Linked DNA regions of Homo sapiens. The protein of the gene in region 6 purifies or fractionates together with the protein of the main gene of each other region. This does not show direct contact. Each region holds a gene or a part of one and is shown on either strand. Other genes may lie near its edges.

Region 1 (4,252 bases), on a different chromosome or scaffold from region 6:
TTGATTCCTCCCACAATAGTTGGACCTCCCTAGACACTCCTGTTACACCTTTTCTTTCTTTTTCTTTCTTTTTTTGAAACAGAGTCTTGCTCTGTCGCTGTCACCCAGGCTAGAGTGCAGTGCCACCATCTCGACTCACTGCAACCTTCACCTCCTGGGTTCAAGCGATTCTCATACCTCAGCCTCCCAGATAGCTGGGATTACAAGCATGCGCCACCACGCCTGGCTAATTTTTGTATTTTTAGTAGAGACAGTAGAGATGGAGTCTCATTTTGTTGGCCAGGCTGATCTTGAGCTCCCGGCCTCAAGTGATCCACCTGCCTTGGCCTCCCGAAGTGCTGGGATTGCTGGCATGAGCCACCATGCCTGGCAGCTTCGGTACCTTTTCACTTTGCTCTGGCAGCCCCTAGGTTGCAAACACTGGAACCCTTTTATGTATATACCCACTTGCTTCATACCTTCACCTTTCTTCTAGCTTCCTTCATGTACCATTAAAAGAGCTCATCATTGGAAGCTACAGAGGGTCCAAGGCCAGAAAATGAGTGGGGCTCAACTGGCCGGGCTCTGTGGCTCACGCCTGTAATCCCAGCACTTTGGGAGGCTGAGGTGGGCGGATCACAACGTCAGGAGATCAAGACCATCCTGGCTAATACGGTGAAACCCTGTCTCTACTAAAAATACAAAAAATTAGCCGGGCGCGGTGGCTGGTGCCTGTAGTCCCAACTACTCAGGAGGCTGAGGCAGGAGAATGGCGTGAACCCGGGAGGCGGAGCTTGCAGTGAGCCTAGATCGCACCACTGCACTCCAGCCTGGGTGAGAGAGTGGGACTCCGTCTCAAAAAAAAAAAAAAGAAAAAGAAAAGAAAATGAGTGGGGCACAACTTCTTAGCATGTCAGGCTTGGGTTATCTGGTCCAGAGCCATGTCTAGGCTTTATGGGGAACTTAAATGTTCAAGGGCATCCAGGCCAGCAGATGGAGCTGGGATATGTAGTCTGGGCCTTCCCTGGAAGTACAGGTTCCCTGTACTTCCCTTCAAATATGGGACAGCCTTTACCCTGCCTCTAGGGAGCAGAGGCTGAAGTTGTGGGTCCAGCAGCTGCATAAGTACAAGGGTCAGATAGTACCTTTTATATTGGACCCTTGGTGTTTTATGAGGCTGTCTACTTAATGGCTTTCTTGGTTTAGCAACATTCTTCATGATCACTAATTGCTTAGTACTCTTTCCATCCCCATTTTATTTAAGAATGAACATGTAAAAATCTTTAAAATCATAATGAAAACTAAGTTGACATCTCTGTTTTTTTCTAAAAAATCAAAAAAGCTGATTGTCCTAAATTGTGTAGATCGTGGGAATATTGTGTAATGAGGAAAAAAAAATAAAGGCTTTAAGAGAGAATTCTAAAATGCTTAATTTCAAAGAAAGTAGTTAAAACATCAGTCTTCTGATGAATTTCTAACCATTCCCCCACGTATACAACTTACTACATTTTGTGCTTTTAATTCGCTCTGGAACGTTGTTGTCAATGAATTTGGTTTGATTACTCGGGAGAAATTCCAAGTAGAATTGTATACACAGGGGGAATTTGTTGGGATAATGAATTGACTCACTTTTTGTTAAGGAAAAGTATCACAGTTTAATCACCTTGTCTGTGCTGAAAACGTTTTAAGTAAATGAATATTGTTTGCTTTTCTAGGGAAAATATGCACGGCATGTATTACTAATTTTAATGCAGCTGTATCATCCAACCAGCTTGTTTAATGTTAGGTAACACATTATCCTCTGTCCTGTTGCCTTCTCTGGAAACCCAAAGGATAAATAAATGGTACTATACAAATAGGGTAGGCCCTTTAGAAACAGATGTGTGGTACCATTAGGTATGTATTCTTCACTTTACAAGAGCTGCCAGTACTCCACATCTGCCAGGGTACTGTGGAGCAGTTTTATAACTTCCTCCATGGTTGCCATCAACCATAAATCATCAAGCAAAAGGTACTTGCCCCTTTGAAGAGCAAGTAAGTCATAACCGCAACTTCAGATTTGAAGTTCCTATCCGTAAGTTGAATAGTTTGGGGTTGTGAACTCAATATTTAAAATCCCAGGAAAACAGAAAGGAGAAGGAGGGGCAAGTAGGACAACCAGAAAATGACCTCTGTTCTAGAGCACTGTCCAGTAGAACTCTCTGTGATGATAGAAACGTTCTGTATCTCCGCTGTTCAGTATGAAAGCCATTAAACACGTGGCTGTTGAGCACTTGAAATGTGGCTAGCATTACTAAGGAACTGAATTTTAATTGTATGTAATAGATTTAAATTCAGAATAGCCACATTTGACTAGTGGCTACAGTACTTAGACGGTGCCATTCTAGAGAGTCTGGGTGCATAGCCTGACACATGATCTTTTTGGATACTGTGTCTTCCCTTCCAAACCCTTCTAGCCCTAAATTGTTCTACAAAAAATACTCAGGATTTATGTAGGCCAGTGTTGGAATTTATAATCCCAGTAGTTTGCATTCTTCCTGAACAGGCAATAGAATAACACTTGCTGCTTTATGGCTTTTGAACCAGACTCTACTCTCGGATTTGATGGTCCACTCACAGACTGTTCACCTCCCTTTGTTGCCGTGCCTCTGGCTCTGTTACAGGAATCTGTACAAATTGGCCCACTCGATATGCACTGTAGTAAGCTGGATTCATGTGATATTTATTCCTTCCTCCCCAGGTTTGCTCTTCGTTTTATACGGCCTGACCCTCGCAGCCGGGTCACTGACCCCGTTGGGGACATTGTTTCATTTATGCACTCTTTTGAAGAGAAATATGGGAGGGCACACCCTGTCTTCTACCAGGGAACGTACAGCCAGGTCAGTGCCATAAACCATATAGATGCCAACTTACCGAAATGATTCTATCCTCAAAGGAGAGCACAGCCCAGCACTGATCATGTCCTTCTTGTACTCAAAAACCTTAATTAGCTCTTCACTGCTTATAGGGGTGGGTAATAAAAAAGACCAAACCTTTTAGCTGGCCCCTCTTTGATCTAATGCTGCCCTTCTTTTGAGGTCTTTTCTGCATAACTTATTTTACCATACCCTCAGTTCCAGCTGACTCATTCCCTGAACATAGTCTGTACTTGCCTACCTCTGTGCCTTTGCTTTTGCCGGTCCATCCACGTGGAATGCCTTCCTCACATTTTTGCTAATTGGAATCTTGCCAGTCCTTCAACTAGATTATGTCACGCCCCACTTACAGCTATCCCTGATTGTTGTGCCCTGTCCTGCCCTATCTCATCATCTAGAATACTAATCTTTCCCTTTGTTCTTCCATAGCTTTTAAAAATTGATAGCAATTTTATATTCTTTCCTATATCATTTGTGTTCGTGTCTAATCTCTGCTACCAGACTGAAAGCCCCTTGAAGGCAAAGCCTACATCTTCTTTGATCTCTCACAGAATTGAATAAGGACATAGACCATAGACTCAGGGTAGCACATCTCATTCAACCTCAGCCATGTAGACCTTTGACTCAAGACCTCACCATTCAGGGGAGGAAAAATTAGAGTTCTGTGGGTGTTTGGTATATCTCTAGTTTGCCAGAGAAATACATAGAATTAACACTACAGGAATAGGGAAAACTATGGGAATGCTGTGGCAATAGGCAAAAGGGGGTTCTATTATGCAGCCTCCAGAATTCCTGAATCTATCTGGAGAAAGAAAAATGCTCACCCTTGCTTCCTGCTTTCATTTTCCCACATCTGCTTTTTATCATAGTCAGTCTCCTCGCTGGCTGTTCCCACCACACTCAACAAAAACTGAGCACCTACTGTATGCCAGGCAATGTCCTCAGTGCTAGAGATACAGAGATGAGTGAGATGAGCACCTCCTGTGTACCCTCTCTGCTATGATCCTGAGGGTAGACCACCCTTGACCATGTCAGCAGTCGTACAGTGTAATGTGCTCAGGAGCACGCACATGCAGGAGCACGCACAGGAGTCTTCGGCGCTAGCCTTGTCTTTGAAAGTCTTTTACACCCTATGCTCTTTAGAATGCCTTTGGATCGTACAGTCCATCATTCCTACTCGATATGTGGCCTGGGATCAGGGTTGTCTTCGCAGTTATTTTTTACTTACAAGGATGTTGTAGCTGTGAAGTAGAAAAATTCTCACCTCCCTTTCATATGGTCAGATTCTCCTGTTTTTATCTTCCTTAGACTGTGGGTGCAGCTGACTTTTCTGTGGTTTGTTGGGAACCTGTGTTTGT
Region 2 (3,500 bases), on a different chromosome or scaffold from region 6:
TGAGGACATTCTATGAAAAATGGTTTTTTAGACACTACGATTGTCATTCCTACTCTAGATACCAAATTTTTTAGGCATATCACATCTTAGCATTAATTTCAATGCTTGTAAGAAGACTGAAATCAAGAGCTGTAAACTTTGACACGTAAGGCCTCTATATGGGTTATTTCTGTCTCTTGTGAACAGTCCACCTCAGGCAACAATATAGTGACTTTTTGACCCTTTGCTTAAGGGTTCCACTAAGTAATATTTAACCCACAAAAGATTATATTTGAAACAACATTTTCCACTATGAAAGAAATGTTCTACTAAAACTCAAAAAACAACAGTATGGTGATCTTTTAAGGGGTCAATACAGATCAAGAAACAAGCAGGAAAAGAATCTAAAAATCATAAAACTATGAAAAATCCAACAGATTAAGCTAGGAGATTCTAATATCTCCAAACAGTGAGTGATTTGAAGGCAGGAAATATATTTATTTTGCACTGCTCATGCATACAGGGCTGAAAATGGTAGGTATTCATGCTTAGTGAATGAAGGGAATGAACTAATTCCTAAAGTCCTTCTAAATCAAAACTAAAAAAGGTGTCTTGAGTATCGGTACAGAGAAAAAGGCAGAAGCAAAAACAATGTAAAATATAATCACACATATACATATATGAGAGATTTAACAATTTAAAATGCCACTAACACACAGCATACTTTAAAGAAACTTAGTTTTGCTTACGTCTTATTCTGCATTTGGCTTCTTCCATTAAAAGGTATATATCTACTCTATTTCATCTAACAGGGTCTCAAGTGATATCTAAAATTTTTACCTTCATCCATGAATAGAAATCTGGAGAGATCAAGAGAGACCTAATAATCTGAAAATTGCCAAAATATGTATTGAACAATATATCCAAATAGCAGTTAGGGAAATTCCTTGTAGAATGACAAGTATAAGCAGGACAAGATCTTTTCATAAGCAGCTCATCCAAATTTCCCTTTTATAAATTTTAGTAGTATAATTATAACTCCAAATGTTAAAAAGGTAATGGCAGATTTTTTTTTTAATGATAGAATAATATGTAGCTCAAGGTCATGACCAAAGTGACTCAACCAATGCTTAAATTATTTAAATAATTTTATCCTTCATCCCATAGACTTAAGGGAGTATAATTATTTAACTGAGTTAAGTAAACTGGGTAAATCAGCCTGCCCAATCTAGCCTCTTATAAGACAAAATTTAAATACTTGCACCCATAATGAATTCATGAAAAGAAAGAATAATGTTTTAATTTATTACATCATGGGTTTGGCTTTCTGGAAAACCTCTTCCTCCTCTGCCAAAAAGGGCAATTCGGTCATAATTACAAAGTCTCTGAGAAGATTCATACAAAGTCTGAAGTAACTTACCAAAGCTGATAAAAAGACTCCAATGCAGCTTTGAGGTTTTCCTAGACACTATTAAACAGTCAACTATGCAGCTCAGACAAAGAACGAAGCTACTCTAATGAATGAAAAAAATCCTAGGCTGGGCACAGTGGCTCACACCTATAATCCCAGAACTTTGGGAGGCCAAGGTGGGTGGAGCATGAGGTCTGGAGTTCGAGATCAGCCTGACCAACATGGTGAAACCTCGTCTCTACTAAAAATACAAAAATTAGCCAGGCGTGGTGGCGCACGCCTGTAATCCCAGCTACTCAGGAGACTGATTCTGTCTCAAAAACAACAAAAAAAAGAAAAAAATCCTACCAAAATTCATGCCACTTTAATATACATTATTATGCAAGTATCACTTGCATTGTCTAGCACATAAAATTATAAGTAATGTCACATTAACTATATGGTCAGTTCTTAATCATGTACATTTTGAACGCTAATGGAAATGTTTAATATCCAATTGGATTCCCTCTGCTATTCAAAATGTTTTCTAGACATCGTCATCACTTTGTGTGATCAAAAAACGCACCAGAGAAGCAACATTTGCCTATGATTTAGCAAGACTGCTATTATTTTACAACTAACCAGTCAACCAGTTTGCAGTCCCAAACCAAATATGTGTTTGGAATACTATCTATAACAATGATTCCCACTAATTAGTTAAGGTTGACTAAAAGTTTCCAAAAGAAGAAACACTGGAGAAAAATTCAGATTGCAAAGAAAAAAACATGATAATACTTTAATAACTCTTACTCCATCCAAGGAGATCTAATATGTAAAAATCCAGATTTACAGCAAGACTTCAGTTATCAAATAATGAGATTCTGAGATTTTTTAAACAGTTTTAATTCACAAAAATCAAATTTACTTACATGTTTTTAGAACACACAGTGAATTAAAAAAAATCCAGCTAGCTAAATATATAAGTTAAAGAACAGAAGAGAACTAGTATAAAGATTAATAAATACAAGTTTTATCATTTAAACACTACCTTTTAATATTTGAAGTTACTGAATAAATCATATGCAATAACAAAATAAGGAAAGCATAAAAAAAGAAAAATTAGAAAACTAGAATAAATGAGGATGTGTTATTGAAAATCTTTTCTTTTAAATCTCTTAACACAAATTTTTGTTGACATCCACTAAACTATTCAAGACTAAACCTAAAACTTTAGAGAGTGGTTCAGAATCCAATTTTAAATTTCTGTAGTTCTGTGGTTTTTGTTTTCAAATGATTCAACTATAGAGAAATTTTATTTTTAAAAAGATTTATTACATATATAAAATTAACCTATTGTACAAATACAATTCAATTGATTATAGTAAATTGATAGAGCTGTATAACCATCATCACAATCCAGTTATAGAACATTTCCATCATTCCAAAGAATTCTCTAGTTCTTATTTGTAGCTAATCCCCGCTCCCACCTCAAGTCCTAGGCAAGAAAGATCTGCTTTCTTTTTCTATATACTGGCCTTTTCCAGACATTTCACATAAATAAAATCATACAATATATAGTCTTTTACATCTGGCTTCTTTAATTTAGCATAGTTTCTGAGGTTCATCAATGGTGTAGCATGTTTCACAAATTGGTCCTTTTATTGCTAAATAGTTCCTCATTGAATGTATATAGCACATTTTGTTTAATTCACCAATTTATGGTGCTTTCAGATTGTTTCCAGTTTGGGGCTATTATAAATAATGCTGCTATAAGCATTCAGGTACATGTCTTTGTGTGGACATGTTTTTGTTTCCCTTTTATAGATTCCTAAAAGTAAATTTGAGTTATCCGTATTTTTTTTCTTTCCTTTGCTTTTTCTAGAGGTAGGGTCTTGCTATGTTGCAAAGGCTGGACTCAAACTCTTGGGCTCAAGCAATCCTTCAGCCTCAGCCTCCCTATTAGCTGAGACTACAGGCATATGCCACCTCACCCAGCTAGCCAACTGTTTTTAAAACAAAGCATTTTAAATTGTGAATATTCAGAACACAAATATACTGTGTTCTGGATTACTGGTTCTTTCACTCCTAAATACATAAATTTAGCATATGCAACTTACATACTTTTCAGTTT
Region 3 (4,252 bases), on a different chromosome or scaffold from region 6:
CTAAATACTCCAGGACCATCCAAACCGGAGGAAGGTGGAAGAAGGGCCAGGAAGTTATGGGGCATGGGGAGCGGGATCTCACCGGGAGGTCCTCTGCCCGCTCCATATAGATGGATAGCAGGGCCGCAGCCAGCTCCGCACTCTTCTGAGTCTGGATCAAACTATTCACCTGCAGCACCTGTGGAGGGGCACACGGGGCTGGGGAGTGGTAACTGACACCTTGGGTTCTGGCATGTGCCTTGAACGCTAAGAGAAGAGCTCATCCTGCCCCACCTTGGGTCCCTTCCTTCCTCAAGTCTCCTGCCCTACCTCCTCTAACTCAGCAGCAGTGGGACGGGGGGTGAGACGCTCCAGGCGCAAGTGCAGGCGGCCAGATGGGACATCCTCCAGGGTCAGCCACTGTGGAAGTAGGCAGGGTGAAGACTTGGGGATATGCAGACAGGAGAACTTTGAGAATGAAGCTTGGGCAGGATCAGGAGGGGTTGTTGACTCTAATTCAATGCTCACCTCATCAAGGAAGCCACTGTTTAAGACTGTGGTGAGACGCACTTTACACCTGTTGAAGAGAAAGATTAAGACAAAAGCTAGATGGTGAGAACCAAGGAGGCCAGACTCCATGGCCTAAAGAGCCCCAGCCTGTTTTTCACGTAGACTCCTATGCTCTCACCTGCCCAGAAAATCATCCTTGTCCAAGTCCTTGTCAAAGACTTCAACCTCTAGCTCTTGGCCTGGAACTGATGTGACGATCACCTAGTGGGAGAAAATAGTGCAGATGAAAGATTCTCTCCTTTTCCTCTGCAAATGACTGGACCCCCCAGTCAACTGAACCTCAGAGGTTTCTGGACCACTTTTGGGATTGGGGGAAAAATGGGGCAGAACCAGGAGTCACAGCCACTCAATTCTGACCTCAAAAACCTCATTCCAGCGGGGATTGAGATCTTCCCGAACAACATGGCTCCGGAAGCTTCGTCCTGCCAACTTTAGTTTGACATAGGGGTCTGACTTGCCCTTCACCAGTCCCCCCAAGAAACGGTCTTTGGCAATCAGGTCCTGGGCCTCTAATACATGGATCCGAAGCACATGCTGCAAAAGGGACGGGGGGGTGCCAGATGGCAAAGGGAGAGAGACCTGTCAGAATCTGCCCTGAAACAGGCTTTGCATACTTAGCGGGGCAAACAGACCCTAGTCCTTTCCAGATATAGACTCACCTCAGTCCCAAACTGGCTATCAGGAGTCGTGTGACAGGGTCGAGGTGGGGCATCCACACTGCTGCCTCTCTGGGGATTCTCACTGTCCACGTCCCAAGCACCAGGACAACCAGGCACCGTGGGGAAGCATATTTCTGATGAATCCAAGTACAGGATCTAGGAAGGGTAGTATGATGCTGAATCAAAGAAGTGCAGCTCGTCACCAGCAGGCAAAGCATGTGGGGTGGGGTAGAGGAGGGGCTGTGACAGGGGAACTAGGTGCTGCCCTGGCTGGGCTCATCTCTACAGGGTTCCCTCCACACCCCCTCAACTCATAAGCCATTCCTTCCACCAGTCAGATCAATATATGTTTTTGTGCCTGCTTGGCACTTCTACATGTATTAGCTCTTTTAATCTTAGGGGGGTCCCTTTCCTTACTCTTAATACCAAAGAATCAACAGGCCTTTCCCCCACACCTCAGTACCTCCTCTATTTCCATACCCTCATGACTAGTTTCATATAGAGTCTGGAGTTTGGACCAGAGCTGCTGAGCTGGAACCACTGGTCCAGGATGAGTTCTGGGGCAGTCAGCAGGCGGGCCAGAGGCAGCGTCAGTGCTCCTAAAGTCAGGGCCCTGGAATCATCCTTCACCTACAGGCACAGGAGGAAGGACTGTAGTGAAGGGATTAGGGGAAAGGGAGGCATACTGTGAAAATGATAACATGGCTCCAACTTCATTCCTCTCTGTACCAATCACAAACCTCCTGCTCCACTCAGGGCCATCTTTTTTTTTTTTTTTTTTTTGAGACAGAGTCTCACTCTGTCGCCCATGCTGGAGTGCAATGGCGCCATCTTGGCTCACTGCAACTTCGACCTCCTGGGTTCAACCCATTCTCCTACCTCAGCCTCCCAAATAGCTGGGACTACAGGCGCATGCCGTCACGCCCAGCTAAATTTTTGTATTTTTTAGTAGAGACAGGGTTTCATGGTGTTCCCCAGGCTGGTCTCAAACTCCTGAGCTCAGGCAATCCGCCCACCTCGGCCAGAGCCATCTTTTATAGTCCTCTGCCCAATCCATGGCCCCTTCCACCTTTGTTCATTCTGCTCCCACTATTTGGAAAGTCCTCATTCTCTTCCCTCGGCCTATTTAAATCCTACTCATCCTTCAAGACTCAATTAAAATCCAATTTTTTGCTTCACAAAATCTCCCTAGTTACTCCAGCCTATCCCTTTCTCTGACCCTCCTTAGTCCTATACTATGGATATTTTACTCCCACAAATTCATATGTAATTGTTGCTATTCTTCTGTTCCTTTTTTTTTTTTTTTTTTTTTTGGAGACAGAGTCTTGCTCTGTCACCCAGGCTAGAGTGCAGTGCTTGAAATCAGCTCACTACAACTTCTACCTCCCGGGTTCAAATGATTCTTCTGCCTCAGCCTCCCAAGTAGCTGGGATTACTGACACATGCCACCACACCTGGCAAATTTTTGATTTTTTTTTTTTTTTTGAGACGGAGTCTCACTCTGTCACCCAGGCTGGAGTGCAGTGACGCTATCTTGGCTCACTGCAACCTCCGCCTCCCGGACTCAAGCAATTCTACCTCAGCCTCCCAAGTAGCTGGGATTACAGGCACGCACCACCATGCCTGGCTAATTTTTGTATTTTTAGTAGAGATAGGGTTTCACCATGCTGACCAGGCTATTCTCAAACTCCTGACCTCAGGTGATCCACCTGCCTTGGCCTCCCAAAGTGCTAGGATTACAGGTGTGAGCCACCATGCCTGGCCTTAGTTCATATGTACTTGTTCTTGAATGATTTTATATGTGTATGTCTTGTCTATGAAACTGAAACTGGCCAGTGAGTATTGTGAAGGCAGATACTATGTTTTGTGCTTTTTCTATGACCTTTAAAATGCTGAATGTTGGGCCGGGCACGGTGGCTCACGCCTGTAATCCAAGCACTTTGGGAGGCTGAGACGGGCGGATCACCTGAGGTTGGGAGTTCGAGACCAGCCTGACCAACATGGAGAAACCCCGTCTCTACTAAAAATACAAAAAAAATTAGCCAGGCATGGTGGCACATCCCTGTAATCCCAGCTACTCAGGAGGCTGAGGCAGGAGAATCACTTGAACCCAGGAGGTGGAGGTTGCGGTGAGCCGAGACCACGCCATTGCACTCCAGCCTGGGCAACAAAAGCGAAACTGTCTCAAAAAAAAAAAATGCTGAATGTTAGCAATTTTATTGAGGCATAATTTACATACCATAAAATCACTCATTTTAGGTACCGTGCCCAGCCTCAGAATAATTTTTGTATACCTAAAATGAGTGATTCTATGGTATGTAAATTATGCCTCAATAAAATTGTTAACATTCAGCATTTTAAAGGTCATGGAGAAAGCACGAAACATAGCATCTGCTTTCACAATGCTTACTGGCCAGTTTCATAGACAAGACACACATATATAAAATCATTCAAGAACAAGTACCTATGAACTAAGGCCAGGTGCAGTGGCTCATGCCTATAATCCCAGCACTTTGGGAGGCTGAGGCAGGCGGATCATCTGAGGTCAGGAGTTCGAGACCAGCCTGGCCAGCATGGTGAAACCCTGTCTCTACTAAAAATACAAAAATTAGCCGGGCATGGTGGTGCCTGCCTGTAATCCCAGCTACTCGGGAGGCTGAGGCAGGAGAATTGCTTGAACCCAGGTGGTGGAGGTTTCGGTAAGCCGAGATCGCACCACTGCACCCCAGCCTGGGCAACAGAGCGAGACTCCATCTCAAAAAAAAAAAAAAATATTATTCTGGAGCGACAGTTGGGGAACAATGGAGAGATATTCAGGGAGGTGGGGAGTCTAGGTAGATGGATTAAAAATAGGAATCAAGGGAAAAGAAGGAGAGGAGAAATGGTACAGATCTGGGAAGTCAGAATAGGGTATTCGGGAGGGGATGAAGAGGTGATTATCTCACTTGCACATCGAGCTCCTGGCTTTGAGGGTCTTGTAGGAAGAACCGGAACGCTTCCTCCCACACTGGGCAGTTGGTACTGTAGACAGCCTGGAGATGTAG
Region 4 (4,252 bases), on a different chromosome or scaffold from region 6:
CAACAAACACCAAGGCCTACTTGAGGGTGGAGGGTGTGGGGAGGGTGAGGATCAAAAAACTATCTATCGGGTACTATGCTCTCTACCTGGGTGACAAAATAATTTATACATCAAACCCCAGTGACACACAATTAACCCACACAACAAACCCACACATGTACCCCATGAACCTAAAATAAAAGTTAGCAGGGAAAAAAAGGAAGAAAAGGTAACACACAAAATGGGAAATATTTGCAAATCATATATCTGATAAGCAGCTAACATTGTGTGTGTGTGTGTGTGTGTGTGTGTATGTTTGTATGTAAACTCTTACAACTCAAAAAACAAACAACCTGATTAAAAGATGGACAAAGGACTTAAATAGATGTTTCTCCAATTAAGATATACAAATGGTCAATAAGCCCATGAAAAGATGTTCAACATTACTAATTAGAGAAATGTAAATGAAAACTACAAGATACCACCTCATATCCATTAGGATAACTACTATCAAAAAAAGAGAAAATAAATGTTGGTGAGGATGTGGAGAAATGGTGACCTTTGTACACTGTTGGTAGGAATGTAAAATGGTGCAGTCACTATAGAAAGTAGTATGATAATTCCTCAAAAAAATTGATAATGGAATTACTATATGATCCAGTAATTCTGCTTCTGGGTATGTAACCCAAAAATCTGACAGCACAGACTGAACTTCAAAGAAAAATATCCACATTCATAACACCATTATTCACAACAGCCAAAAGGTGGAAGCTGCCCAACTATTCATCAACAGATGAATGGAGAAACAAAATGCAGTATATACATACAATGGGATACTATTTAGCTTGAAAAATTATTGAAATGCTGACATTTCCTACAACACGGATGCACCTTGAGGACATTATGCCAAGTAAAAGAAACCAATAACAAATGGCAAATACTGTATAATTCCACTTATACTTCAAGTATTCGAATTTACAGACATCAAAAGTAGAATAACGGTTACTGGGGTCTGGGAAGACGGTGGAATGGGTAGTCATTGCTTAACGGGTAAGTGGTTCAGTTTTGCAAGATGAAGAATTCAGGAGATGAATAATGGTGAAGTCAGGAGATGAATGGTGGTGATGGTTGCACAATGTAAGTGTACTTAATGACATGAAGTGTACACTTAAAATGGTTAAGATAGGCCGGGTGTGGTGGGTCACACCTGTAATCCCAGCACTTTGGGAGGCCGAGGCGGGCAGATTACTAGGTCAAGAGATCAAGACCATTCTGGTCAACATAGTGAAACCCCATTTCTACTAAAAATACAAAAATTAGCTGGGCATGGTGGCATGCATCTGTAGTCCCAGCTACTTAGGAGGCTGAGGCAGGAGAATCGCTTGAACCCAGGAGGCAGAGGTTGCAGTAAGCAGAGACTGCGCCACTGCACTCCAGGCTGGGCAACACAGCAGGACTCCATCTCAAAAATTAAAAAAAACAAATAAATAAAGGAGTTCTTCAGAAAGAAGGAAAATGATTTAAACCAAAAACTCAGATTCACAGGAGCATTAGAGAATTAAGAGATGAAGGTAAATTAAGTCTTTTCTTCCTTATTCTTAAATTAATAGAAAAATGTCTAAAATACTAATAGCAGCAATGCATTGGATTATTACAGCTTATAGGTAAGTGAAATTAATGACAACAATGTTACAATGGGCAGAAGGGAGGAATCTGTATACTGTATTGTAAGATAGAGTATTACATATACTACCTCCATTTTCCATGAAGTAGTATAGTGGGATTTTTGTTTTTGTGTTTTTTGAGACAGAGTTTCGCACTGTCGCCCAGGCTAGAGTGAAGTGGCACAATCTCGGCTCACTGCCTCCCAGTTCAAGAGATTCTCATACCTCAGCCTCCTGAGTAGCTGAGACTACAGGCGCACATTACCATGCTCAGCAAATTTTTTGTATTTCTAGTAGAGATGGGGTTTCACCATGTTGACCAGGCAGGTCTCGTACTCTTAACCTTAAATGATCCGCCAGCCTCAGTCCCCCAAAATGCTGGAATTACAGGCGTGAGCCACTATACCTGACCTATAATGTTATTTGGACGTGGACTTGGACTAGTTTTAAGTGAACAGCACAAACTGTAATACAACCACTTAAATAAATTGTTTAAGAAGCATAATTGGTATGCTAAGACAGGAGAAAAAAATTAAATCATATCACATGATCAATTAAAACCAGAGAGGGCAAAAGAGGAGGGGAAGACTGTTTAAAAAGGAAACAAGTATAACAAAACAGAAAACAGCTATAAATATGATAAGACACTGTCAAAGGAAAATAAAGGTTTTTCTCTCTACTCTCATATTCGACACAGAACCCTTAGATAACCAGATATGTGAAGTTTTTCCCCCAATCCCTAAACAATTCTCCAACAGACACTAACTATAATTCAATTAAATAATGACACTATCTACCTAGAAAGGGTGTCATATCGAGCCGGGCGCAGTAGCTCACGCCTGTAATCCCAGCACTTTGGGAGGCCAAGGCAGGTGGATCACAAGGTCAAGAGATCAAGACCATCCTGGTCAACATGGTGAAACTCCGTCTCTACTAAAAATACAAAAAGTAGCCTGGTGTGGTGACAGGCGCCTGTAGTCCCAGCTACTCGGGAGGCTGAGGCAGGAGAATCACTTGAACCCGGGAGGCGGAGGTTGCAGTGAGCCAAAATTGCGCCACCGCACTCCAGCCTGGCGACAGAGCGAGACTCTGTCTCAAAAAAAAAAAAAGAGATAATGTCATATCCCACATGGTAAGGGCTCAGTTCCATAAGACTGCCCCTCACTTCAGATGTCAGTCACAAGTCGCAGGCTGTGATCTGTGCTTCTGATTGACCAGCTATAAATCAGGGTTCGCACCTGATTTTATTTGGTTTGATAATTTGCTGGGATAACTCACAAAACTCAGGGAAATACTTATATTTAACAGTTTATCATAAAGGATATTACAAAGGATACAGATAAAGAGATGGACAGAGCAAAGTAAGGTGGTGGGGAGCTTCCATGCCCTCCCTGTTGTGGACTTTGGTATCTGCACAGGTCTTGGAACTAAACCCCTGGAGATACTGAGTGCTAAACATACACGTCATGACCAAATGGGATTTATTCTAGGTATGCAAGGCTAGTTCAACATTCAAAGATCAATTAATGTAATGTATCACACCAACAGATTAAAAAAGAAAAAAATCCTGTGATAATAGTAATAGATGCAGAAAAAAACATTTGACAAAATCCAGCATTCTTTTGTTTTTGTTTTTTTGAGACGGAGTCTTGCTCTGTCACCTAGGCTGGAGTGCAGTAGCACGATCTCGGCTCACTGCAACCTCCGCCTCCCATGTTCAAGCGATTCTCGTGTCTCAGCCTCCCAAGTAGCTGGGACTACAGGTGCCCGCCACCACACCCAGCTAATTTTTGTATTTTTAGTAGAGACAGGGTCTCACCATGTTGGCCAGGCTGGGCTCGAACTCCTGGCCTCAACTGATCTGGCCACCTCAGCTTCCCAAAGTGCTAAAATTACAGGCATGAGCCATCATGCCTGGCTCCAACATTCTTGAAGGAAAAGAAAACACTCTCAGCAAAGCAGAATAGATGTGTATGTATGACAGAAAGAAAAAAATTAGAGTATTTGTTGCCTCTGAAGATGAGGGTAGGAATAAATTAGGAAAGGTCAGGAAAAAGACTTTCTGGGGTGATGGTCATGTTCTATATCTTGACTGGGTTTGAGTTACATGTGTGTATGTATTTGTCAAAACTCAGTCAATGTACACTTAAGATTTGTATATTTTCTTCTACATAAATTTTACCTCAAAAGGAAAAAAACTAAGCAAATATTGCACTCTAATGATACACATGCTGAAGTATTTAGGAGGAAATGAGCTCATCTCTACAACTTATTCTGAAATACATTTAATAATATGAATTGCTGCATGGATAGAGAGATGGACAGATGGACAGGTATGTGACAAAACATGTGTGGTTAAATATTAATGGTATTCCATTATATGGATATGCCAGTTTGTTTATCCATTCACCTGTTGGTGGATACTTGGACTGTTTCCCATTTGGGGCTATTAAAAATAAAGCTGCTATGCACATCTGTGTGCAAATCTTTGTATGAACATATGCTTTCATTTCTCTTGGGTAAACATGTAGAAGCACAATGGCTTGATAACATGGTTGATGTATGTTTAACTTTTTAAGAAATTGCCAAACTGTTTTCCCAAGTTGTTT
Region 5 (3,500 bases), on a different chromosome or scaffold from region 6:
AAATGCAATCCAGGCACAGGTTTACCACTACTACAACGTGATGTCAGCATTATGCAAGGAGAGGCAACAGTCTGAAAAGAAGGCCTAGAGCTGCAACTCCTGAGGTCACAGGCGGAGATTAAAAAAAACAGTTTGGGAGGTTAGAAGCTCCTGTTTGTGACTTCAAATGAGGGTTGAATGTGAAAGAAATAAAGGCTGTGAGAGTGAGATTAACTCAAACCAAGGTGCAAGGTCCATGTGGACTGGGTAAAGACAGGGAAAAACAAGGCCCTGGAGCGGGTTTAACTGAGGGGCAGCACTGTAGATGCACATTTATCTGGGACTCATGAGACTACTTCAGGTCACTAATGGGTTGAAGGTTCACTCATACAGCTATGATCTGAAACCAAGTGACAGATCTTGTACCAGACATAAAATGATTCACTTCGCAAACAAGGAAGCTGAGGGAGCTAATTCAGTCCTGGCCCGGGGTGGAAATAGTATAAACTACTCAGAAAGAAGAGCTCCACGAACCAGAGTAAGCTGGGAGAGACAGAAGGAGACTAGAACAGAAAATATCTAGAAAAGACCAGATTTTATTGTTTATGTATCAAGGTTTCCTTGCACTGTGAACAAAACAGTCTGCATAGGTGAAGTGACCCCATGTTAGCAGTAAGTAAACACTATGGGGTTGGGAAGAAAGCTCCCCAGGAGACAACGATTCTGCATCTCTTGGCTGCTGTAGAAAGTTCTTCAAGAAACAGGCAATGGGGGCCTGATCTAGAAGTCTTCCCAGAAGAGCTACCCTGACCATGCCTGCTGTGGCTCATTCACATTACACAATTCAAAGTTGGCAAACGTGGTGACTAAGCAAGCAAAAAGCTTGGCTAAAAACTCACATATTCAAATCGATCCTTGCAGAGCTGAACCATCAGGTGCAGAAAGACAAGTCCGGCAAACCAGAGGCACCACATGACCACCTCTTCCACTGTCTGGACATTCAGCACACCAAAGATGAAAATGAACTTGTAGAAAATAAAATTCCAAAATTTGTCTTTGAGATGCTAAAAAAGAAAAATGTTTATGAAGGTGAGTACCATCACACCTACCCCATTTGAGGGAAGTTACCATAACAAAAGCCGGCTTCTATGGAAGATATATTCTGCACTTGGCTTTCTAATACTTGTCCTCAAGAAAACAGAAAAAAAAAAAAAAAAAAAAAAAGCAGCCATCTGAAGAATGGAGGTAAGACACCCAGAAACTAATCTGTAAACTTTGGACTATAACCCTAAATCAATTATGGAATGTTAGCTATTCAAAGGATAGCGATATTAGTTTAGTAACTTATATATTAAGAAATAGGCCAGGCGCAGTGGCTCATATCTGTAACCCCAGCACTTTTGGAGGCTGAGGTGGGTAGACAGCTTGAGCTCAAGAGTTTGAGATGAGCCTCGGTAACATGGGGAAACCCCATCTCTACCAAAAAAAAAAATACAAAAATTAGCTGGGAATGGTGGTGCACACCTGTAGTCCCACCTACTCAGGAGGCTAAGGTGGGAGGATTGCTTGAGCCCAGGAGGTCAAGGCTACAGTGAGCCATCATCATGCCACTGCACTCCAGCCTGGGTGACAGAGCAAGACCTTCTCTCAAAAAAAAGAAAAAAATGCTTACATTTTTAATGCACAATGAAAAAGAATGGCAAGGGCTATCATTTTTACTACTTCTACCTTCCAGATTCTTACACAATAGAAAAGATTAGACTTTGTAAAAAAAATTCTTCAAATTAAAAAATAACACAACACAACCACTTGCCAGCCCATAATAAAGGCGGCATAAAAAGTACAAAGAAAATGAAAAATGCTGCCTTAACATTTTTATGAATTTTCTTGTCTTTTCCCTATGTACAAAACACATTACTTTTTGTACAATGCTTTCTTTCACCTATTGTATTGTTAGAACCTTAACAATGTCAATGAATATTCTCTGAATATACCAATATACCGTTTCAATGGCTAAAGATGGACACTGAAACTGTTTTAAAATTTTCACCACGCAAAAAAAACATTATAATGAGGGCCGGGCGTGGTGGCTCATGCACGAAATCCCAGCATTTTGGGTGGCCAGGGCAGGCGGATCACTTGAGCCCAGGAGTTCGAGACCAGCCTGGGTAACATGGCAAAATCCTGTCTCTACTAAAAATACAAAAATTAGCTGAGCATGGTGGCACAAGCCTGTAATCCCAGCTACTTGGGAGGCTGAGGCATTAGAATTGCTTGAACCTGGGAGGTCGAGGTTGCAGGGAGCCATGATCATGCCACTGCACTCCAGCCTGGGCAACAGAGCAAGACTCTGTCTCAAAAAAAAAAAAAAATTGTGATGAATATTTTTGTATGTATCTTTGTATGAGTTACTTCAGCACTGTCAAATCAAAAATTGCAAAGATTTTTATGGTTTATAGTAAAATCTACCTAACTTCCAAAGCAGTCCTGTAAGTGTACATTCCCATGGGCAGTGTGTATGCATATTTGCTTCACTGTACTCTTTTACACAGAGGGCTTCCAGTTTTAACAATCTTCACTAACCCTGAAATAGGAGAGCAATAAGGAGGGTCTAGTTCCCCCACATGTTAAAATAGACTATCAAGCCGTCTAGGGGGGTCAGGGAGAACTGACTGAAGAGGATAAGAATGGAAGCATGATTCTAAGTATACTTTTTTTTTTTTTTTTAAAGAGACAGAGTCTCACTCTGTCATCCTGGCTGGAGTGCAGTGGCCCAGTAGTAGCTCACTGCAGCCCCAAACTCCTGCGCTCAAGCGATCCTCCCACCTCAGCCTTCTGAGTAGCTGGGATTACAGGCACATGACATCATGCCCGGCTAATGTTTTTTATATTTATATTTTGCAGAGATGGGGCCTCCCTCTGTTGCTAAGGCTGGTCGCAAACTCCTGGGCTCAAGTGATCCCACCTTGGTCTCCCAAAAGAATGCTTTTATATGTAATTTGGAACCATGTAAATGTTTCACAAATTCAAAAAATAAACACAAAAAAGCAAAATATACTACAAATTAACAACGTGACTCCTTAAAGATTTTGAGAACTTAAACACACTGTACTCTGACCAGATATCTTTTGTAGAGAACAAAATAAAGTGGAAAAAAATCATAGAGTATGCCCTAATTCTATCCATCAAAAGGGCAGAGACACCCTAGTGGTAATGAGCACACTCAGCCAGTATACAGCTTGGCTTCTAAATATCATTGCCCAATAACGTGAACTAGGAATCGTTGGTGAAATGTCTGTTTCCAGACCTGGTGCAGGGAAAGTACAAGGTGAACTTAGGACATTTTGTGCCCTGGTTTTGAATGACACTGCCACTTGGCTCTGCCATTTAGTTTCTGTGTGACCTTGGGAAAGTCACTTAACATCCCTGTGCTTTAGTTTCCTCATCCATACAATAGGTCTTATAATAACAGCATATACCTCATAGAATTGTTGGGGGAATTATACATAATATATGTGAAA
Region 6 (4,981 bases):
TAAAGATAACTGTTAAAGGAGAAATGTGTACTCTATCTTTTCTGATGATCCCCATGGCTAAAACAAAGCAGTTTAAAAATAAATCTTATTCAAAAGGAAAATGTAAAATTCTTTTTTTAAAAGAGATGGATATTACAACCTAAGTCAAGGAAATATCTCAATTCATATTCAAGTGTTTAATCATAGAGGTGAAGAAAAGCTGAATTGTTATTCTTTCTACACAGAGACAATTTGGGTCTATTTCTACCAAGTCAAACCAAGTAGCATGTAAAGAACTCAGGAGCACTTTAAATAAAGTTAAACATTAAATTGCAAAACCAAGTAACGTTTTCTGACTTGGATAATTCAGGGTCAGAAACATTTCCTGTGATATGTGAATCCCAAAGTTGATCATTATTTATCCCAGGGTCCAGAGTCCTTCAGAAATGACTCAGGGAAAAATCTTTTACCTAGAAAGGTGAAATTGACACTACCCCCACACGATAACGGGCTTAAATTTTCCATACTTAAATTCTTAAAGTGCAGATGGAAGAAATCTGTTTTTTTTCTTTTATGTTATAAAGAATATAATAAAACTTACCTGAAAGCATTGTGAGGATGACATGTAATAAATGCGCAGTAAATGGTAGCTCTGACTCCCCAGGACCCGGGTTCCTCCTTCTGAATTCTTGATCTGTGATATATACTGCCAGGCTCCCACTTCTCAGCCAGGGTGTTGAGAGGTAGTTTACTCACTCTCCTCTCACAATACAGTTCAAATAGGTATAAAGAGTCAAACTTAGAATCTAAAGGAGATCTCCTCAGGGCCATAAAGTAAGAAGGGATTTAAAGTCAAAGTGATGAGTATGAGCTAAGGCCAGGAAAGCCATTAAAGCACAGAACAAGGTGTAAATTTCCATGGCTGACTCTAATGCTCATATAAAGAAAGGAGTCTGGATTATGAACCCAAGGCATTCAGAGAGCTGGAAATAAACTACAGAAAGCTAGGAGTCTGAAGGCTTTGCCTCATCTATGAGACAAGGACAAGCAGAACTATACACATTCTTGGAAAGCAGTGACAGTGCTTTTGACTTCCTGGGTGTTAGCGCAAGAGTTAACCACAAGAAACTGAAAGAGTTTGGCCTTCACTGTGCACATGTAGGTATGCCAAATTTATGCCACTTATTTTCCAAAGTGGTTACAGAATGGCCCATAAATGCTACATGATAGCATGTGTGCAAATTTAGAAATAATACAAAGCATTATTACATATAGTTTGTGAATACTCATATAAATAGTAAGAATAGAAAAAAATGGAGAAATCATATTATATTTATGCCAGGCTTGTTTGGTTTGGTTTGGTTTGGTTTGCTGAGAAAAGGACAAGGACCCAGGGAAAGAGAAAGCAACAGAGTGAATGAAGTTCAAGTTTACCCATAATATTACAATTCACATATTTCAAAGAAGAAAAAAATTAACAAAATTTCAATTAAGGGGGAAAATCAAAAATAGCAAAGTAAAAAACACAAAAATACTGAACTCTTTAATTATAATTTATCTCTTTTTAACCTTTTCAAAAAAGACTAAAGACATTGAAGACACCACAAAGCAAAGCAAAATAGCTATATGCAAGTGTCTGAACCAGAGGACACCTATGAGGTCCTGAGGAGACACTCACAAGGGGAAGGTGGAGAAGCTTACATCAGCCAAAAAGCAGAAAGAACTGCAGAGGGGATTGGGCTGGATTTCCGAATGCTTCTTCAAAGCCTATTTGGCAAGAAGCCCTTCTGAGTCAACTTTGTAGTTTGATGACTTTTATTAATGATTAGCAACTTAAGCCCTAGGGTGGCAAAGAATCCTCATCTCTCTGCTCCAAAAAGTCCAAGGGAGTAAGCTTGGAGGAAACGCTGGGTTCAACTTGAAGCCCTTCCACAGACATTAAGTCGGTAAGTCACTTCTCTTGGTATTGAGATGAAGACCTCCAAAACTCTTTTCTGTATAGCAATGGACAATTTTTATATACTCCCCAACCCCAAGTTTCCTCATATGATAAAAATAAAAATGAAAAATGTAAAAATCCATATTAACAAGACTGACAAAAGTGAGGGAGAAGTGGCAGGAAGCTGAAGCTTTGTATCTGATCATCCATATGCTTTGAAACTAGCTAGTGGAGACAGTAGCAGCTATGGAAGATAATTCCAAGAAATAGGCACTCTTGCGAGGTGTTTAAAAGCAAAATTTTGCAGGTCAAACTGGCTTCTGAACAAATATCATCTCTTTCATTTACCAACTGGGTGACCTGGAGGAAGAGGGTCAGTAATATCTCCATCTGGGATTGATGTAGACTGGCTGGTGCAGTAATTTATAAGAGTGGCAATAATAATTATTTCTATTATACCAATGGCTAGGGTGGCTCTGGTCCAAGAAAGCATCTGGAGAAATGCTGCATCAAGATCCAGTGAGTTGGTGTGAAATTTAACCAAACTAAAATGGCTAGGGATAGAAGAGGAAATGGAGAGATGAGGCAATGGGACAGTCACCAGAGTCAGCAGAAGATGGTAGGTGGGCTGAGGGCAGTGGGAAGGAGGGAATCAGGGAGTCCTCAAGGCCAGAATGGAGAAGGTACAACTTTTTGTGGCAGCTGCAACTTCACAGATGTGTGGGAAGATGCTGTTAGAACACTCCCTGCCTTTAAACTAACCATCTCTACTGAAAGCTGATCCTCAATGTGGTTCTCTATGAACACTGCTTTGGACCAGAAACTTCTCAGAGTGCAATATATAGTTTCTGACCCAGATAACCAGCATAGCTTTTTAGTGGAAAATAAAGAGAGCTGTTAAAACAAAAGGGATTTACTTGAGTAAAGCCAAGGTGTAGACAGGCTATAAGACTGATTGGAAGGGCACATTTAAGAGAAGATAATGAGAGTGCATTTTCTATGTTGTGCTACTTGAGCCTGTTCTTGGCTCACCTGTGGGTGCCTTGGGATTTCCCTCTAGATTACTTCTCTTTCCTCTAGTTATAGCCCCAGGGTGTGGGAAGGGTCAGCAGAGCTTGAATCCAGCTTTTTAAGTCAGTGAAATGTTTTGAGGTTACCATGGCAGTAGGTGTCTGTCATGGTGAGGTGGGTAGACCACACCTGCTGGCAGGAGAAGATGTGACATCCTGGTTCACTTAGAGATAGGGTGTTGGTACAAGCTGTGTGCAGGTGGTAGACTGTCATGTGAAACCTTAGATAGCTTTAAAAAGTATTAATATTTTCAAAAGTCAGGAGACAAATGGGAAGATCGGTATGGAATCAGGGGACGTTGACCTGTCTGTGGAGACTGGAGATGATACTGATGAATAGAGGCAGTGGCAATGCAGATGCAGGGCTGGGTATGAAGGATGTCATCTTAGCAAGAGTACCCATGCTTTGCAGAAGAGGTCACATCATTGCAAAGGAAATCAGTGGGAAGTGAAGTCTGACTCATGTTTCAGGGTTTTCATGCCTGAAAAGCATTCATTATATATATAAATATATATATATGTATAAAATATACATATATATAGTAATGAATGTAGTATACATACTACATATCTATTTCTATATGTTTATGTAAGTGTGTGTCTTTGTGTCTTTGTGGATATAGATATGTAGTGTGTATACATACAAACACACCCACACACACAGACACACACACTTAGATGAACATTGTTTGATAAATTTCTTAAGCCCAAGAAGTCCATAAAACAATAAATTAAGCCCAAATTTGTAGCCTTTGCCTTTTTTTTTTTTTTTTTGGCGTTAAAGCTCGTATTATGGCCAATTCCAAGCTACCATCATGACATTACTGAATTCAGAGTTGGGGAGAGATGTGCAATAGCACATCTTTATACAGTATTCCCACCATATAGATACAAGAGATGTAAAAAACCTCAAGAGTGGAGCTTACAATAAAATGCCATGAAATAATTATGAAGTCATAAAGTTAAAATAATACCTTTTAAAAATATAATTAATTGAACTCTAAATTCATATCATTTAATGGATAATGGCTATGTTCAACAACTAGCTTGAAAAATTTCTAAAAACATTAATAATGAGCTCTTTTGGCCCCAAGTGAGTTGGTTCCAGTACATCATTGCCCTACTGTGCACTATTCTTTCTGAGAATAGTTTTAATTCCCTGCCTTAATTCAGGTTCTTCCATGCCTTTATCTATTTACATAATTTTTCCCTCTGATATAACTTACCATACTTGGATATGTCTGTTTGGTTGTTTCATTTCTCTTTTTAGGATCTTCATTTAACCTTAGAAACAAAAAGCCAACCATCCTTCCCATCAAGAAGTTATTGAATTTCTTGGATTGAGACAACAGTCAGATGCCACGTAGCCCTCATCTAAGTTATCTAAGGAAGGGGAAACTAAGAACTTGTTCCAACATCAATAATTCAGAGAACCCAGAGTCTTTTTTTTATTTTTTAATTTTTTTATTACACTTTAAGTTTTAGGGTACATGTGCACAATGTGCAGGTTTGTTACATATGTATACATGTGCCATGTTGGTGTGCTGCACCCATTAACTCATCATTTAACATTAGGTATATCTCCTAATGCTATCCCTCCCCCGCCCCCACCCCACAACAGGCCCTGGTGTGTGATGTTCCCCTTCCTGTGTCCATGTGTTCTCACTGTTCAATTCCCACCTATGAGTGAGAACATGCAGTGTTTGGTTTTTTGTCCTTGCGATATTTTGCTGAGAATGATGGTTTCCAGCTTCATCCATGTCCCTACAAAGGACATGAACTCATCATTTTTTATGGCTGCATAGTATTCCATGGTGTATATGTGCCACATTTTCTTAATCCAGTCTGTCATTGTTGGACATTTGGGTTGGTTCCAAGTCTTTGCTATTGTGAATAGTGCCACAATAAACATTCGTGTACATGTGTCTTTATAGCAGCATGTTTTATAATCCTTTGGGTATATCCCCAGTAATGGGATGGCTGGGTCAAATGG
Region 7 (4,252 bases), on a different chromosome or scaffold from region 6:
GTTCAAGTGATTCTCCTGCCTCAGCCTCCTGAGTAGCTGGGATTACAGGCTTGTGCCACAAGGCCTGGCTGATTTTTATATTTTTAGTAGAGATGGGGTTTCACCATGTTGGCCAGGCTGGTCTCGAACTCTTGGCCTCAAGTGATCCACCTGCCTCCACCTCTCAACATGCTGGGATTACAGGCATGAGCCACCATGCCCATCTAGCATAATTTATTTAAGCAGCCCCCGCTAGTGGAAATTATGATTGACATTATTTTTTTTAATTATATACTGGTACAGGTGTTGAGTAGAGTCTGAGACACGGAGTTTTTGTGTCAAAGTCCATGTATATGTTCAGTTATTATTATTTTTAGACAGGGTCTTGCTCTGTTACCTAGGCTGGAGTGCAGTGGTGTGATTGCAGCCTCGACCTCCCAGGCTTAAGTGATCCTGCCACCTCAGCTTCCCAAGTAGCTGGACTAAATTTTTTTATTTTTTATAAAGACAGAGTCTCACTATGTTGTCCAGGCTGATATGGAACTCCTGGGCTCAAGTGATCCTCCTACCTCAGCCTCCCAAAGTGGTGAGATTATAGGCATTAGCCACTGCACTGGGCCATGTGTACGTTAAATTTAAAATGTTCTCTAAAAGGCATTTTATACTTCTAGCAACAATGTATGAGAATGTTTTTTCTTTCCAAATCCTCACTGCCTCTGAATTTGAGTCTTATGTATATTTTATGAATCTTGCTTTTCTCTGATCATTGGAGAGATAGAACAAATTTTCATACATATATTAACAGTTTGTGTTTTTCTTTTGTTAATTCTGTCTTTATAACTTTCACTCATTTTTCTAGTGAGCTTATATATATTTGTATATTATACAAATTCTGTCAATTATATAGCAAATAACTTTTACTGTTGCTTACATTTTTTTTTGTTATTGTTTTTTAACTGGATGCAGATTTTTTTTTTATACTTTAAGTTTTAGGGTACATGTGTACAACGTGCAGGTTTGTTACATATGTATACATGTGCCATGTTGGTGTGCTGCACCCATTAACTCGACATTTAACATTAGGTATATCTCCTAATGCTATCCCTCCCCGCTCCCTCCACGCCACAACAGGCCCCGGTGTGTGATGTTCCCCTTCTTGTGTCCATGTGTTCTCATTGTTCACTTCCCACCTATGAGTGAGAACATGCGGTGTTTGGTTTTTTGTCCTTGCGATAGTTTGCTGAGAATGATGGTTTCCAGCTTCATCCATGTCCCTACAAAGGACATGAACTCTGGATGCAGATTTTAAATTTTCATGTAGTTAAGTCTGTTATTCCTTTATGGTTTCTAGATTTTGTGACATGCTTAGGGAGGCCTTCCTCATTGTAAGATCACCAAAATAATCACTTGTGGTTTCTTGCATTATTTTTAAATTATTATTTTGTATTCAATATCTATATTAAAAGAAGTTTGGAATAAGTTGACTTTCTAGGAGTCATTTTATCTCTGTTAGTCCTTGACTAATTGGATTTTTTTTTTTCACAGACCCTCGTCCTTTATGCCCTTGGTGTGGTACTTCAGGATCCTAATACTTGGCCATCTCCACACAAGTATGAAATATTTGTCATTGTATTTGTGACTGTCAGTTTTTGTGTTTGCACGTTTTGCATTCCTTTCCTAACTGTTGAGTAGAAAACTCAATATGTAGCAATGATACAACAAAAGAAAACTAGTGAATCCCCTTTTCTTCTCTTTCTTTTGAGACAGGGTCTCACTCTGTCATCCAGGCTGGAATGTAATAGTGCAATCACTTCTCACTGCAGCTTCGACCTCTCTGACTCAAGCCATCCTTCTGCGTCAGCCACCTAAGTAGCTAGGACCACAGGCGCGTGCTGCCACGCCTGGTTCATTTTTGTACTTTTTGTACAGATGGGGTTTCACCATGTTGCCCAGGCTGGTCTTGAACTCCTGAGCTCAAGCCATCCTCCCACCTCTGCCTCCCAAAGTGGTGGGATTACAGGCATGAACCACCAAGCCTGACCTGCATCCCCATTATATCTTCTGTTGACTGCTTTTTCTCTTATGTGAATCTGCTATTTGCTACTCTTTGTCTCTTTTATTACCACTTTTATACTAAGTGAAAAGTAATTAACATCTGTTTTAAGAAAATTAAAGCAGGCCGGGCACCGTGGCTCATGCCTGTAATCCCAGCACTTTGGGAGGCTGAGGCGGGCGGATCACAAGGTCATGAGTTCAAGACCAGCCTGGCTAACATAGCGAAACCCTGTCTCTAATAAAAATACAAAAATTAGCTGGGCATGGTGGCGCATGCCTGTAATGCCAGCTACTCGGGAGGCTGAGGCAGGAGAATCACTTGAACCTGGGAGGCAGAGGTTGCAGTGAGCCAAGATCATGCCATTGCACTCCAGCCTGGGCAACAAGAGCAAGACACAAGACTCCGTCTCAAAAAAAATTTTTAAAAAAGCAGAATTTCTCTCTCTTTTTTTTTTTTTTTTTGAGATGGAGTCTCGCTCTGTCGCCCAGGCTGGAGTGCAGTGGTATGATCTAGTGTCACTGCAAGCTCCGCCTCCCAGGTTCAAATAATTCTCCTGCCTCAGCCGCCTCAGTAGCTGGGACTACAGGCACCCGCCACCACGCCCAGCTAATTTTGTGTAGTTTTAGTAGAGACAGGGTTTCACCATGTTAGCCAGGATGGTCTCGATCTCCTGACCTCATGATCCACCCGCCTCAGCCTCCCAAAGTGCAGGATTACAGCCACTGCGCCCGGCCTCTTTTTTTTTTTTTTCCCCAGTGCATTTTTCTGTTCTTTATTGCTTCTCTTTTTGCTTTTTTTAAATTTATTTTTTATTTCAATAGGTTTTTGGGGAACAGGTGGTATTTCTTTGGTGGTGATTTCTGAGATTTTGGTGCAACCGTCACCCAAGCAGTGTACACTGTACCCAATGTGTAGTCTTCTATCCCTCATCGCCCCACCGTTTCCCCCAAGTCCCTAAAGTCCATTGTATCATTCTTATGTCTTTACGTCCTCATACCTTAGCTCCCAAGAATTTCCCTTTTTTAAAAATTCAGAGTTTAAGTCGTTTAAAAATACTTGTTTTTGCAAGGAATTTTTTTGTTCTGTGGTACGTGGGTTATTTGTTTTGTTTTTAATATATGCATTTCTTCAATGACTTTACAGAGTGAAATTCTATAGAACAAAAAATGTTTCTTAGGCCCTTCATTTCCCTGACTTTATTTTTTATTTTTATTGTTTCTTTAGGGACAGAGACAGGGTCATGCTCTGTCACCCAGGCTGGAGTGCAGTGATGTAAACACAGGCTCACTGCAGCCTCAACCTCCTGGGCTCAAGTAATGCTCCTACCTCACCCTCCAGAGTAACTGGAACTATAGGTATACGCTACCATGCCTGGCTAATTTTTTTTAATTTTTAATTTATTTTTATTTTTATTTTTTTCGAGACAGAATCTCGCTCTATTGCCAGGCTGGTCTTGGAATAAGCAAGACGCCAACTATGAAAAATAATGGGCTGGGCACAATAACCTGTAATCCCAGCACTTTGGGAGGCCGAGGCGGGCAGATCACCTGAGGTCGGGGGTTTGAGACCAGCCTGACCAACATGGAGAAACCCCTTCTCTACTAAAAATGCAAAATTAGCCAGGTGTGGTGGCGCATGCCTGTAATCCCAGCTACTCGGGAGGCTGAGGCAGGAGAGGTGGAGGTTGCAGTGAGCCGAGGTCATGTCATTGCACCCCAGCCTGGGCAACAAGAATGAAACTCCATCTCAAAAAAATAAAAAATAAAATAAAAAATAATGATAATAATCACACATATATAGAGTACGCTTTTCATTCGCTTTAATCCAGATACCCTCCTAGAATTCAGTGGCTTAAGAGAAGCAACGTGTATCTTTTTTTTTTGGACGGAGTCTCAATCTGTTGCCAGGCTGGAGTGCAGTGGTGCAATCTTGGCTCACTGCAACCTCCGCCTCCCGGGTTCAAGCGATTCTCCTGCCTCAGCCTCCCAAGTAGCTGAGACTACAGGCATGCACCACCACGCCCAGCTAATTTTTATGTTTTTAGTAGAGACGGGGTTTCACCATGTTGCCCAGGATGGTCTCAATCTTTTGACCTCGTGATCACCTGCCTCTGCTTCCCAAAGTGCTGGGATTACAGCCTTGAGCCACTGTGCCCAGCCTTTAAAAAAATTTTTTTTTTTTTTTTTTTTTTTTTTTTTGAGACAGAGTCTCACTCTG

Evidence for each region.
Region 1: the proteins of SLC17A3 (region 6) and FAF2 purify together in Homo sapiens (affinity purification with mass spectrometry; one large-scale study listed by BioGRID and IntAct). This does not show direct contact.
Region 2: the proteins of SLC17A3 (region 6) and DNAJB4 purify together in Homo sapiens (affinity purification with mass spectrometry; one large-scale study listed by BioGRID and IntAct). This does not show direct contact.
Region 3: the proteins of SLC17A3 (region 6) and ESYT1 purify together in Homo sapiens (affinity purification with mass spectrometry; one large-scale study listed by BioGRID and IntAct). This does not show direct contact.
Region 4: the proteins of SLC17A3 (region 6) and VPS13A purify together in Homo sapiens (affinity purification with mass spectrometry; one large-scale study listed by BioGRID and IntAct). This does not show direct contact.
Region 5: the proteins of SLC17A3 (region 6) and AMFR purify together in Homo sapiens (affinity purification with mass spectrometry; one large-scale study listed by BioGRID and IntAct). This does not show direct contact.
Region 7: the proteins of SLC17A3 (region 6) and CYP20A1 purify together in Homo sapiens (affinity purification with mass spectrometry; one large-scale study listed by BioGRID and IntAct). This does not show direct contact.

Annotation. Positions count from the first base shown.
Region 1 is NC_000005.10:176,489,475-176,493,726, forward strand, and holds part of FAF2 (FAS-associated factor 2), read left to right. Parts: intron 1-2,719; coding exon 2,720-2,858; intron 2,859-4,252. UniProt on the Homo sapiens protein: Plays an important role in endoplasmic reticulum-associated degradation (ERAD) that mediates ubiquitin-dependent degradation of misfolded endoplasmic reticulum proteins.
Region 2 is NC_000001.11:78,007,939-78,011,438, reverse strand, and holds part of DNAJB4 (dnaJ homolog subfamily B member 4), read right to left. Parts: intron 1-3,500. UniProt on the Homo sapiens protein: Probable chaperone. Stimulates ATP hydrolysis and the folding of unfolded proteins mediated by HSPA1A/B (in vitro).
Region 3 is NC_000012.12:56,134,330-56,138,581, reverse strand, and holds part of ESYT1 (extended synaptotagmin-1), read right to left. Parts: intron 4,241-4,252; coding exon 4,154-4,240; intron 1,839-4,153; coding exon 1,689-1,838; intron 1,365-1,688; coding exon 1,209-1,364; intron 1,084-1,208; coding exon 907-1,083; intron 751-906; coding exon 668-750; intron 557-667; coding exon 508-556; intron 400-507; coding exon 310-399; intron 179-309; coding exon 83-178; intron 1-82. UniProt on the Homo sapiens protein: Binds calcium (via the C2 domains) and translocates to sites of contact between the endoplasmic reticulum and the cell membrane in response to increased cytosolic calcium levels.
Region 4 is NC_000009.12:77,183,648-77,187,899, reverse strand, and holds part of VPS13A (intermembrane lipid transfer protein VPS13A), read right to left. Parts: intron 1-4,252. UniProt on the Homo sapiens protein: Mediates the transfer of lipids between membranes at organelle contact sites. Binds phospholipids. Required for the formation or stabilization of ER-mitochondria contact sites which enable transfer of lipids between the ER and mitochondria.
Region 5 is NC_000016.10:56,408,546-56,412,045, forward strand, and holds part of AMFR (E3 ubiquitin-protein ligase AMFR), read right to left. Parts: intron 1,044-3,500; coding exon 879-1,043; intron 1-878. UniProt on the Homo sapiens protein: E3 ubiquitin-protein ligase that mediates the polyubiquitination of lysine and cysteine residues on target proteins, such as CD3D, CYP3A4, CFTR, INSIG1, SOAT2/ACAT2 and APOB for proteasomal degradation.
Region 6 is NC_000006.12:25,871,111-25,876,091, reverse strand, and holds the start of SLC17A3 (sodium-dependent phosphate transport protein 4), read left to right. Parts: upstream 1-1,848; 5' UTR 1,849-1,925; intron 1,926-4,981.
Region 7 is NC_000002.12:203,290,738-203,294,989, forward strand, and holds part of CYP20A1 (cytochrome P450 20A1), read left to right. Parts: intron 1-1,524; coding exon 1,525-1,589; intron 1,590-4,252.